4 separate regions of the Homo sapiens genome follow, and regions 1, 2 and 4 are each reported to be linked to region 3. The links are microRNA targets in miRTarBase. Many come from high-throughput screens and were not tested one by one. Region 3 holds a microRNA gene; each other region holds the end of a gene's coding sequence.
Evidence for each region. Region 3 holds the annotated microRNA hsa-miR-4675 (GGGGCUGUGAUUGACCAGCAGG, at 1,769-1,790, opposite strand). A microRNA usually pairs through its seed, bases 2 to 8, with sites in the 3' UTR of a target mRNA and lowers its output. Matches are read on the target gene's strand: a 7mer-m8 pairs with bases 2 to 8, a 7mer-A1 pairs with bases 2 to 7 and ends in A, and an 8mer does both.

Region 1: the mRNA of TIMM8B is a reported target of hsa-miR-4675. The part of its 3' UTR that is shown has no 7-base or 8-base seed match.
Region 2: the mRNA of BARX2 is a reported target of hsa-miR-4675. Seed matches in the 3' UTR shown: 7mer-A1 at 352-358.
Region 4: the mRNA of BARHL1 is a reported target of hsa-miR-4675. Seed matches in the 3' UTR shown: 7mer-A1 at 2,484-2,490 and 7mer-m8 at 2,216-2,222.

What each region holds. Positions count from the first base shown.
Region 1 is chr11:112,082,328-112,085,452 of GRCh38, reverse strand. TIMM8B (translocase of inner mitochondrial membrane 8 homolog B) reads left to right here. Exons shown (of 2, transcript NM_012459.4): 2 at 1-653. The coding sequence ends at 158. It overlaps NKAPD1 (NKAP domain containing 1), which reads right to left. Exons shown (of 6, transcript NM_018195.4): 6 at 303-2,988. The coding sequence ends at 2,481. Among named protein-coding and RNA genes, the nearest start is that of TIMM8B, 2.9 kb to the left of the region's middle.
Region 2 is chr11:129,451,137-129,454,261 of GRCh38, forward strand. BARX2 (BARX homeobox 2) reads left to right here. Exons shown (of 4, transcript NM_003658.5): 4 at 1-1,143. The coding sequence ends at 266. Among named protein-coding and RNA genes, the nearest start is that of BARX2, 77 kb to the left of the region's middle. RefSeq lists an enhancer at 2,181-2,682.
Region 3 is chr10:20,550,680-20,553,804 of GRCh38, reverse strand. MIR4675 (microRNA 4675) reads right to left here and starts at 1,835; the gene lies at 1,759-1,835.
Region 4 is chr9:132,589,138-132,592,137 of GRCh38, reverse strand. BARHL1 (BarH like homeobox 1) reads right to left here. Exons shown (of 3, transcript NM_020064.4): 3 at 1,886-2,910. The coding sequence ends at 2,616. Among named protein-coding and RNA genes, the nearest start is that of BARHL1, 8.0 kb to the right of the region's middle.

The DNA of each region.
Region 1 (3,125 bases), not on the chromosome of region 3:
TCATGGAGTTATGTTGGGATAAATGTGTGGAGAAGCCAGGGAATCGCCTAGACTCTCGCACTGAAAATTGTCTCTCCAGCTGTGTAGACCGCTTCATTGACACCACTCTTGCCATCACCAGTCGGTTTGCCCAGATTGTACAGAAAGGAGGGCAGTAGGCCATCCCCCAGGAGAATGACAGAAGCAAAGGACTTGTTACTAAGCAGATTTAAGGGTCAGTGGGGGAAGGCTATCAACCCATTGTCAGATCAGCATCAGGCTGTTATCAAGTCTGTTGGTGCTAAAAAGTAAAAGATGAAATGTTCAAAGAGTGAAATTTATTTATTTGGAATTCAGAAATTCCAGGTTGTATGACATCAGTTACTCAATAAGTGTGAATTCTCCAACTCTTCTTTTAATCCCATTTTAGAATTTAATATAGAGATCTCTGATTGGCAGGAACACTAGAAATAAATGTTCCATGGCCAGTAGTGCAAATGGGGGATTGTAGGTTTTGAAAAACCACCCTAAGCCATATTAAGGGGGTTGGAAGAACCATCGAAGCCTAAGGCATAGAAGAAAATTTGGGGTTAAGAAAGATGAAGAACAAAAAACAGCTTTATTGCTTATACATGACCAAGAAAAGGAAAACATGGCAAAAAAAAAAAAAAAAAGGCAAGATGTGTATTCCTTGCGAAAGAACAAGCCTGCTAACTTGGGAGGAAGGGAAGGTCAGGACCCAAATAGAGCCAATTTCCTGGAGATGGCCTGTTCTACTGGCACATTTTCCTGAGTCTGTGCTTAAAACCTTTCAGGTACTTTCAGGGCACAGAAACAATGCATGCTAAAAAATATATGGCCAAAGCTCCTTCCAACAAAGATTTAACTTGCTCCAGGAACAAAATAATTGCTTTAGGTTAAGAGGTAGTAATTAGAGACTATTCTTCTCCCTTTAGACCCCCACTAATCCCAAAAATAAAAATACACACCATGGAACACTGACAATTGAGTACCAAAGTATTAAAATTTAAAATAAATATCCCAAAAGGTAGCACCTGCTCATAGTTAAGGGATAGGGCACCTCTGTCCAACCATGTATTTTAAGACCAAGCACTTTATTAGAAATCTGTCCCGTAAAGAGAACAAATTTAGCAGTTAGAACTAAAAATACCAACTCATGGAATGTCATCATAGTTGTATCTACTGCTGGTGTCTTATACTGTCATGCTACTGTGAAGTAATTCCGTATTACACATCAGGAAAGTAAGGCCAGGAAGGTGAACTTACCTGCTCTGGGCCTCCTCATAACCAATGAGTGGCAGAACCAAGACCGAAAGTCTGAGTTTTCAAGCTTTTTACTCAGCCCATTAAGTGACAACCAGGAAAAAATAATACGTCACTTGATCTTTCTTCCCACAGTGAAAAAATGCACTTGCGTTCTGCCAGCCTTCTTTCAGTGATATGTTGGTTTCTTAAGAATTAACATACTAAGGATCACAGTATAGCAAAGGGAATTAATGTGGTCTCTGCTTGGTGCTTTAATCCAAAGGCAGACTGGGAAGAAGTGGATATGTCCCTGAGAAGCCTGTTTCATTTTGGAAATAATTCAACTTAGTTTCAGGGAAAACCTAAACTTCATGAACAGATTTAGAAATGAACAAGACAACATTTAAATGGCAGTTGCTGCCCTGAATCCAGAGTACCATTAGACAACATGATTATTTCCTAATTCTTCCCCATTTGGTACAGGATTATCTATGACAATTGAAGAAATAATTTGAACACAAGTCCATTTAGGCAAATATACAGCAATGGAACTAGAAAACCATTTACTATCCAATTACCATGTTTAGGCATATACTAAGTATAGCTATAGGCCCCATCCAGCAGGGAAATTTGCAAAAACTCTAGTCCCTTCTAATAAGTTGTCTATGGATGTTATCATGAAGGGAAAAGGTTTGTTCTTAGGCCCATGTCCTGATTAAGTAAACCGGACCACACCTGTGGGGTCAAAATATAGAAGGATCAAAGCACCAAGGCTAAAGACAAGTTAGTTGTGACACCTGCTATATAAACAGAGAGCAATACAGTGTTGCCTTGTCATACCATCCTACATGGCATTAGTTCCAATCCACCTCTTGATCCCAGCCCTTGACTTCCCCAAATTCAATATTCCGATTGGTGTACCCAGGTCACTATTGGATCCAGCTTTCTGGGTCCTTTAATTTGCTGTATATGCACTCTACACTAAACGTAATTAATTGCAAAAAAAAATAATCTCTTCAAGAAACCTTCATAACAAAATACCAGATTCCCTTTTAACAAGAAAAGGGGATCAAGCTTAACGCCAAAATAGAAGACAAGACGTCTGTCAGAACATACAGATGGCACAAGACAGCTCTGACCTCAGGCCCCGTGCTGAACAAGAGTCACTGGCAAAACCACAAGGAGTAAGAACTGTAAATATCCACAGTCATGTGGAAAACAAAAGTGTTTCCCATTTAGTCATCCTCTGAGCTCTCAGCAGACCTTTCATCTGTAGCTACTTTCCAATTTGTGCGTTTGTTTGTCCTCTCCTGTATTTCATTGTTGGCTACAGAGGTATGGGCTTTTTTCTCTCTCTTTTTCCTTTTGGTTTTCTTAGTGTCTCTTTCCTCACTTTCCTCAGAACTGCTGGATGCTGAATCATCTGAATGTGAAGTGTTACTTTCTGCCTCTAAGAATAAAGCAGGTTTTTTGAGAGACTTTTTCCTGGATTTTTTCTTGCGTTTATGTGGTTGTTTCCCTTTCCTTGTACCAGAAGCCCCAGTTTCTTCTGAGAACTCACTCGAGGAATCTGCTGTTATATCTGTGGCTTCCTTTTTGCTTTTCTTCTGTTTTTTGTGTGACCTTTTTTTCTGCTTTTTTTTGTGGGATTTCTTTGACTTCTTGTGTTTGCGGGATTCATGGGTAGATGACTTTACCTGGGGAGATGTTTTCTTCCCGTTGGTAATATCTTGCTGATCACTACTAATAAGAAAAGTTAAAAAATAGAAGCTTTTATGTAAAAAAAAAGCGTATTATTTTAATATTTTGCATTCTAGATTAAAAAATTGAGGTTAACATCTGAATTTTAAATAAGCACTTTAATGTATACTTTAACACTT
Region 2 (3,125 bases), not on the chromosome of region 3:
TTCTTAAAGGTGGACAGGAAGCACCCACAAAACCCAAAGGTCGCCCCAAGAAGAACTCCATCCCCACATCAGAAGAGATTGAAGCTGAAGAGAAGATGAACAGCCAGGCCCAGGGTCAGGAGCAGCTGGAGCCCTCTCAGGGGCAGGAGGAGCTCTGTGAAGCACAGGAACCGAAAGCACGTGATGTCCCCTTAGAGATGGCAGAGCCACCAGACCCGCCCCAGGAGTTGCCAATACCCTCTTCGGAACCCCCACCATTAAGCTAAAGTAAAACCCTTTTGAGGGAAGAGGGAGACTGGGGAGAAGGGAAAAGAGAGAAGGCAGGGAGAGTAGGGAGAGAAAACCTTCCAGCAGCCCAGTAAACTGCGGGCGAAGAGATCTACCCGTCTCCCTCCCTCCCACAGTTACCATTGGCCTTGTCATCGCAAGCATTTGACAAAGACTTGCTTGTCTTGGGCCTGTCACCTCCTGAAAGGCTGCTTTAGCTGTGGATGCCCTTGATTAAGGGAGAGAGCGCCTAGGAGCTGCCTGCCCCAGCTGGGGTGACGGCTGTAGGGCTGGGTCTATGTTGCAAGCCCTATATCCTAGCATGCAGTGGAAAGTGCTTAGCTCTCTCCCTCCTGACCTCTGGGCAGCCAGTCATCAAAGCAGAGAGACGTGGCGGCATGTGGGCAGCATGCCCAGGTTCCTTGCTGACTCAGCACTTATTTCTGTAGTTTTAAAAAAGAATTTAATGTTTTTGGTTGTATTTTTTTGGGGGGGTGAGGGTGGGCAAAAACATGGGGGTAGTTCTGAGTTGTTAGAAATGTTTCTGAATCAAGTTTGTTTGAAGACACGTGTGCCTTTGTACCCATTATAAGATGGTCATAAGACCCAAGAACTGATAAGCTTTGGTTTTTTTTTTGTTTTGTTTTGTTTTTTGCTTCATTTACCCATTCATGCCTAGGGTTCCATTATTGGAACCCTAAGCTTGTGGGAGTTATTTCTATCCTACTGCTCAAGGTCATCACCAAGATCTGATTTTTCATAAAAAACATTTGTGACCTTCGGCATAAATGGGTTAAGGTGCCATCCCTGAAACTGCAATGCAGATATGTTCAGATAACTTTTATTTTTTAATTAAAAATAAATCTTTCAAAAGGATTGAGTGTTTTGTGTCTTCTGAGGAGTGTATCTAACCCTTCCTGAATGTGTCCTATGGGAAGAGAGATCCAGAGAGTGAACCAAACTAGGGGGGCCACCTTTTCCCCATCTATAAAACAAAGGATTGGGCCAGGCCATTGGTGTCCAAGTGCTGAGAGCTGTGGGAGTGGAACCGAGCCTCCGGGATGAGGACAGGGCAGAGTAGCTAGGCTCTCCCTTCCACCTCTCCCACCGCCTTCTGCCAGAGCAGCTCCCTTCTCAGCCGCTTCACATTTGGGGCGTCCAATGGTCTTACTTTTTTAAAGAGGTAAGAAATGTATATGCTTCAAAAGTCAAAACTATAAAAAAAGAAGTCTTGGGCTGGGAGCAGTGGCTCACGCCTGTAATCCCAGCACTTTGGGAGGCCCAGGCAGGCGGATCACCTGAGGTTGGGAGTTCGAGACCAGCCTGACCAACATGGAGAAACCCTGTCTCTACTAAAAATACAAAATTAGCTGGGTGTGGTGGTACATGCCTGTAATCCCAGCTACTTGGGAGGCTGAGGCAGGAGAATCGCTTGAACCTGGGAGGCGGAGGTTGCAGTGAGCCAAGATCATGCCATCGCACTCCAGCCTGGGCAATAAGAGCGGAACTCTGTCTCAAAACAAACAAACAAACAAACAAACAAAAAACAAAAAAAAACTTGCTTCCACCCTGCCCTCTCCTCCCCTGAATCCCCGGTAGGTAATTATTTTTATTGGTTTCTTGTTCATCTTTCCAGGGTTTCTTGACTAAGTATTCATTTGGATGATGGGCTCTGCAACTTTTAACAAAAGAAGACCTGAGAACTACTTGACTAGATGTGCTGGGTGATTTTAAATTTAAAAATTGTGTTCCACGTTAATTTAAGACCAAAAAGAAGGAGGCTCTAGATTTCCTAGCAGGAGGACTCTGCCTCTGTTTTTTTTTTGTCTGATTCTCATGCATTCTGGCCCAGAGCCTGATCTCAGAGGGGTCACCTTTATGATCACTGCCCCAGCGTGCTCACCTGTGATGGCTTACAGGGCCGAGTGCCCATTTAGTGGACTCTCAGTTATTAATTACACACAAACTCTGCCCAGTTGCAGGCTTGGAGAATACCAACTTTCAACAGTGGCCTCAACAAGGAAGCCAAATCTGTTACTACTTCTGTAAAACAATCACATAATTCATTTCAAAGTTAAACAGGAAAGATCCGCGTGTTTTCCATCACCTGGCAGGCCGCCTGCTTTTCTCCATTAACAATCAGAAAGTGACTGCAATTTTGACTTTGCCAAGGCAGTGCCTCATCCCCTTTGTTATTGAGATCAACAGAGAAAGCAGTCTTTTTCTTAACTCTTGTGAATAGACAAAGGAGGGGAGGATTTGGCTTCTGAGAACCAGTTTGAGCAGACCACACCTAGCTGCCTGTGCGAGGTTGCTTGCACCAAGCAGGCAGAACGCTGTCTCCTCCACCTGTAGCCCACCCCATGGTACAGTTTTATGATCTGCCTACCAGGTGGTGTCACAATGAGCCAAAGAATGTGCACAATGGCCAAAGTAAGCCGGTGGGTCAGTGTTAGTTCTGTGTCAATCCTAAGGAAGTGTTCTGTCCCATTCGCGCCACCCCAGAGAGGCCTCCTGTCTGGATGCTGGCTTCCCAGGATGGTGTTCCATCTCTTGCCCTGGGCTCCCATGATGTCCTTTTCTTTTTTTTTAAGTTCAGGGGTACATCTGCAGGTTTGTTACATCGGTAAGTTTGTGTCATGGGGGTTCGTTGTACAGATGATTTCATTGCCCAGGTATTTCAGCCTAGTACCCATTAGTTATTTTTCCTGATGCTCTCCCTCCTCCCACCGTCCTCCCTCTGGTAGGCGCCAGTGTATTTTTTTTCCCCCTCTATGTGTCCATGTGTTTTCATGATGTCCTCTTCTGAGGTGCCTGACAGTGACTGTCACCGCACAATATACGTGTCCATACACAGT
Region 3 (3,125 bases):
ACAGATTGAACAATTAGAATTTTTCTAAATACATTCAATAACCAAAAAAAAAAAAAAAACCCTTCTGTTATTATTGCCTGATACCAAGGCAACATTGATTGAGGTAAAAGATGTACCAGCTGCAATCAGAACCATGTTGACAGGTATTTATAAACACACTGACACTGAAGGCATCTCCTGATAGCTTTTCAAATTAAGATATTTTGTTATTGCTGATGCATCAGATAGAATTTTTTTTTTGCCTCTCCAGCAGCCATTTCCATTCTCCCTCCCTTGGTAGCTTACAACCAGTTTTGTCCAAACCTTTGCCACCTTGTGCTTCATGGGAGCTGATGTCTTCACAGCCCTAGATAATGAATCTTAATTAACATTAGTCAGTCATGGGAAGTCTATTATTCTATCCAGTGGTTGGCCTACGGAAAGGCAGACAACAGAATTCTGGCCAATGAGACAGAAGGAATTATCTTCTTCTCATTCTTGCAAGGAATCTGAGAAAAGGGCCTACTTTCTTCCATTCTTTGGACACGTGTGAAGATGTGATGCTTGGATCTGTGGTAGCCATATTGTGGCAGCCATATTTTAAGCAGGAGGTGGTAGCCATACTGTGACCAGGAAGTGACAAGTCTGAGTGCAAAAGCCAATGCAATGACAAAAGAGAAGGGTGGAAAGAACTGAGTCCCTGGTGGTGTATTTGAGCTACTGAATCAACCAACGCTGTGAGGGCCTTACTGGTAGACTCTAAAAAAAAAAAAAAAAAAAGAAGATAATAAGTAAAGTTCCTGTATTGGTTCAGCCACTTGAATTTTGTCCTCCATAACCTTCAGCTGAATTCATCCTAAGTGAAGCTATTGATTTCAAGATTTAAGGAGAGCTTTTCCAGCATTACAGGCTACTTTAATGTTATACTTTACTGTGACTTCTCAAGCTACTGTTAAAAGATGTTGTAAATTCTGTTACTGATTTTTAAAGATGAAAATGCCCAGGCTAATAAGAAATGATATCAAGTGCAAATTTCTTTATTCAGTATAGATTTATTTTTTAAAAATAAGCACTCTTGAGAATTTGACCTGGTTAACGTTACCTCTCCAAACCACAGACAAGCTTTTTTTTTTTTTTTTTTTTTTTTTTTTTTTAATAGCTTTCAGTTCCAGACCCGACCTACTATCATGATTGATGACAGAGGATTTTTCTAGCATACTTGCTTTGTGGGTCACATGAGCTGAAGAAATTTCCACATCGGCTTTCATTTTGAAATATGTTGCAGGAAGAATGTGGCAAGTGTTTTCAGCTATTCTTACTTGTATATATTTAACACCCATTTTAGAAAAGATATATTTAGTAATTCCAACTTATTTATGACTGAAAGAATAATGATAGTGAGAATAATTATTCTGACTTTAGTAAATATTTGTTGGATACTTGTAATGTACCAGGGATTCCAGGGAGGAAGTGTAACATAATGCCAAAAAATAAGGGCTCCAGTCTCAAACAGATGTGGATTGTGGCCTTGAAAGGTATTGTGCATTTCCCAGAAAGGAACACTGAAATGGGAGAATGTGTTCCCCACTTGATTCCAAGGGTGAGTAGCCGGGATTTCCTTTCCTTTGCAGGAATTTCTCCTGGGAGAAGGTAAAGCTCCTTGCCCACACCCTATTTCTCTCCAGGTAAGTGGTTTTCCTGACATGGGAAGAACTATGCCATGGTTGAGTAAGTCGCTTCTACTCTCCTTTTGCTTGGAGAGGGCTCTAAGACTCAGTGCATGAGAAGTCCTGCTGGTCAATCACAGCCCCGGAGAGTCTGACCAGGGCTATGGTTGACCAGCAGGATTTCTCATGGAGTGAGTCTGTCCAATTCAGCCTAGATTTTATCAGTTATAAAGCTGACTTTTTAATCTTCATAAATCTAACTCCTGCATGCCTTTCAGTTGAATCTGAACTCCTGTGAGGGTGGAGCTATTGTCCCTAGAAGCCCTATGAAACACTAGATTAGATGCCATGCTGCTTTTTTTGCACATAATATCAGGTGGCAGGGTTGCCATGGGAAGGGGGCAGGTATCTTTCTCATTTTGATTTTTTTCCCTAAAAATGTGTACAAAATCCCTTGTCTCTGTCTCTTGGAACCAATAGTTCTCTTACAAATTGACTCCTGGAAACCTTACCTTCCTATTCATTAGATAGGATCTGAAATCTGCCACAATGGCAACAAAAGCAATTGCTGCTGTTTTCTGCAACCTCACTAAATGCTAGGTAGGGGTGTCTCACAATTGTATGTGAGATGAAGTGACATGTCAAAGCCAAGCAGAATTCTGCAAAGTTCTCACTGCATGTGCAGCTAGTTCTGCTAGTGTTCTGAAAGAAGCACAGGCATAGGAACATTGTTCCACAGAGCCTAGGCAGGAGTGAAAATGTCAAGCACTGCCCTCGGTAGCTGTGACTGCAAGGATGTTAACTAATGGGCAAAGAGGGGAAAAATATAAAAGTGGAATGTTGGTGAACACATATAAAACACCTCACTTACATCCAGCAATACTTGGAGGAGAAATTTTAGGAGGTGATTTTGGGTTATGCAATTTAAGAGCTAAGATCAGCATGATATTAATGTGACCCCAATATGACTCATGGGCTGGAAAGAATAAGGGAGGGTGGACTGCAGTAAAAATTGTCATGTTGATATGCTGGTGTCATAATGCTGGGTATGAATTCAATTTTGGAACATTATCATGAGTTTTTGTGCTTAGGTTTGAACATAACTTTTATTTATTTCCTATTCTTAGAAAGTACCTTAAATTGTATCACTAGAGCATCAGGGATCTTTCCTCTTGCCTACCGGCAAGTCTTGTAAAAGAATCATTCGGATCATAGGCCTTGAGAATGGTTCTGATCCATTTCCTGAAGCCCAGCCTGCCATACTTTTTGGAGGGGATGTGGGGTAGGATTCCCAGCTAACCCCAGCACAAGTGCCTTCATATCCACCATCACACCCCCATCATACTCGAATCACACCTGCATCATGCCCACATTGTACTCTCATCACACCTGTCATCATACCTTCATCATACTCCCATTACACCTGCCATTGTACCGCCATAATACTCCCATTACATTTACCACATACTCACATCATAA
Region 4 (3,000 bases), not on the chromosome of region 3:
TAAACTTCTTTTCAACTTTGTTGCCCCCTCCCTGTTGAGTCGGCGTTTATGAGGGGGGATGGGTCAGTGGCAGAGCGGGGGAAGATGGCTTCTCAGCCCTCTCCTATTGTCAGGCCTGTTGGGGTCCCACATTCATTCTTTTTTTCTTACACGAGAGCTCGCCCAACCTCAGGGTTGGGAACAGAAACCAATTTAGCCTTCTAAGTGGATGGAAGGCAGGAGCCCACCTCACTGCAAAGGTTGTGAAGTTATTATTACAGATGGGATGTGCAGGACAATTTAAAATATTCTAATTATAAACTTGTAGGGAAGCCTTGTTCTTCATTAATGTAGGATATGAAATCGCCTCTGAGGTACAAGGACAATTACATAGTTGAGAATGTGTCTGTGGTTTGCGCTGCCACTGTGTAAATGTGAGGGTGGTTGCTACGGTCTATCTCCTTCACTTTCACAAAATGAAAAGCACACCAGTGCAAGTTGTCCTTTGATAGATTTTTAATATGATTTTAAAGAGTTTTGTTTGGTCTCATTCTTATTCAATGAGATTAATTTAAAGCACTTATCCCCTGGGTTTAAGTCAATCCATGTAGGATTTGGGCAGGGTTTGTTGCATGGGGGGTTTTGTTTGCAGGAGGCTATGAGAGACTCCTTTCCCACTTCATTAACCCTGAGTTGGGGACAGTCTCTCCTCACCCCCCACCAGAGCCAGAGCTGGGGATTTACCAACCCCCATTCACATGCAAAAGAACTCGAAAGCCGAGGGGCTCCTTGACTTAATTAGCTGCTGTGCATTTTGCAAAATTAGAATAATACCCTCGCCATCCCAGGAAAGAAAGCTGCTGTGCGAGGGTGTTTCGGGGCAGGGAGGAAACAGTAGCGGACCTGGCTGTGGGTATGGTTTTCGAGAGGGGTTATAGTCTGAACACAGCCCCCGTCTTCAGAGAAACCCTGCCCCCAAACTAGAGGGGCCACGGCTTGCCGGCCCCCAAAACTTCCCAGCGCTGAGGGTTAGCGAGCTGCAGGTGGTGTGTGGGAAGGGAGCACCTGCGCCCACCTCCCCAGAGAGGGAGCAGTCTCAGGTGACCGTGGCCCTTTGGACGTGAACTGGAAGCCTCGAGTCTGACTCGGGACTTAAACCCCTCTCCCCTGAGATGCTAGAGCTGCGGTCTGGGGCAGCCAGAAGAGATGGGGCAGACGCTGGGATTTGGCTCCCCTCTGGGTCTCATTTCCAACCTCCTCCCGGGGTAAAGGGGAGGTGAGAAGATGTGGGAGTGGGGGTTTACCCGATGTGGCGTCTGGTTCGCAGCGAAGGCGCGCGGAGTCCTGCCTGGTGCGGGAGGCCGGGAGGCCCGGGCCGCCTTGGCGCCCGCGAGCGTCGGGAGCCCGAGCGCGGCCGGACGCTGGGCGGAGGGTGGGAGTGATGGGGGGAGCAGCCTCGGAGCCCATCTGTCGGCCCGCGCCCGGCGGGCCGGTCACCAGCTGCCGGGGCCCTTGTCGCGGCCAGATGAGTCGGCTCGGCGAGGGCCCCGCAGCCCGGCCCGCAGCCGACCGAGGCCCCGCGCTGACCCCCGCCTGTTCCGGCACGGACCCCCGCCCCGGCCCTCGGGACCGTCTGGGAGCCGCTAGGAACCAGATGGAGACAGAGGAGGAGGAGGGGAACAACGAGCTGGCCTCGCTGTAGAGATGGGAAGACTGAGGCCAGGGAGGGGAGACCCGGGCCCCAGCGAGTCCCGTCGGGGCCCCCGCGCATGTCCACAGCACCGGGGAAGAGAAGGGGGACAAAAATGTTTCGTTATTGAGGATGGAAGGAAACCGAGTCCCCAGGAGAGGGATGGGAGAGGGGTTGAGTGCGGACCCAGCGACGCGAGCGCGGACAGGCGCCTGGTCATTTGTAAGAAGTTTATTTCGACATTTAAAAAAGAGAGAACCCGAGAGGCCTGGCTGCCCCCGGACCGGGGCTGAGGCTGGGGGCTGGGGTCGGGGTGGGTGGGCAAGCCCCCTTGGCCCCTTCCTGCCCCGCCTGGGAGTGGGGAGGGCACAGGCCACAGACTCACTAATCCACGGACACGGTCACGGGCTCATGGGTCACGAATAAATAACTTCATATACACTTTGCACACGGTATGTACAGCTCAGCCGCTGGCCCAGGTGCTCGAGGGGTAGGGAGACGGGGCTCCGCACTCCCCTTCTCTCCCTGGCGGGGGCGCGGGGAGAGGGGCTGTTCTCCACCTGGAGCGTAGAAGGGGCGTGGGAGAGAGCGAAGCCTGGGAATCAGCCGCACCCGCTCCTGGGGAGAAAGGGGTTGCCTAGGGGAGCCGGCAGAGGCTGGGGGTGGGGAGTGGCAGAGACGCGTATGTACACCCGGCGGGTGGGGATGGCTCCCGGACAGAGCGGCCGCGAGAGAGGACGCCGAGGGGGGCTGGGGAGACGCAGTCCGGGGTCCGGGCCTCAGTGGACTTGGCATTTGGCCCTTCGGGGGGCACTGGGCTGGGGCGCCAGGGAGGGCCGGGCAGGGCCCCCTCCCGGGAAAGGGCGTCGAACCTGCGCCCTCAGAAAGGCGGGCGGAAGGGGCCACGCCGAGCCCGCGGGAGGAGGCCCCGGAGCCGACGGGCGCCTCACCGAGGCTGCGCGGCGCGTGGGAGGACGCCGGCCAGGGGGGGCAGCGGCGGGGGCGGCTCGCTGGCGCCCTGGAGTCCGTGGATGAGGATGCGGGGCACCAGAGGTCTCTGGAGAGCAGGCGGCGGCGCGCTGGGGCCGCGGTACAGGTAGAGCGCCGCGCCGGGGTCCAGGTTGGAAACCAGACTCTGCGGGTAGAAATAAGGCGACGGGAACATCCGCTGGAGCGCTGAGTAATTGCCTGCCTCCGCCAGCAGCTCCAACCCGACGGCCGTCTGTCGCTTCCATTTAGTCCTGGGGGCCGAAATAAACGCGTATGGCGGGATCAGGGCTAGGGCATCCAGCGACCCCAGCCCCTCCCCACTGCTTGGCCCAGAGAGCCTG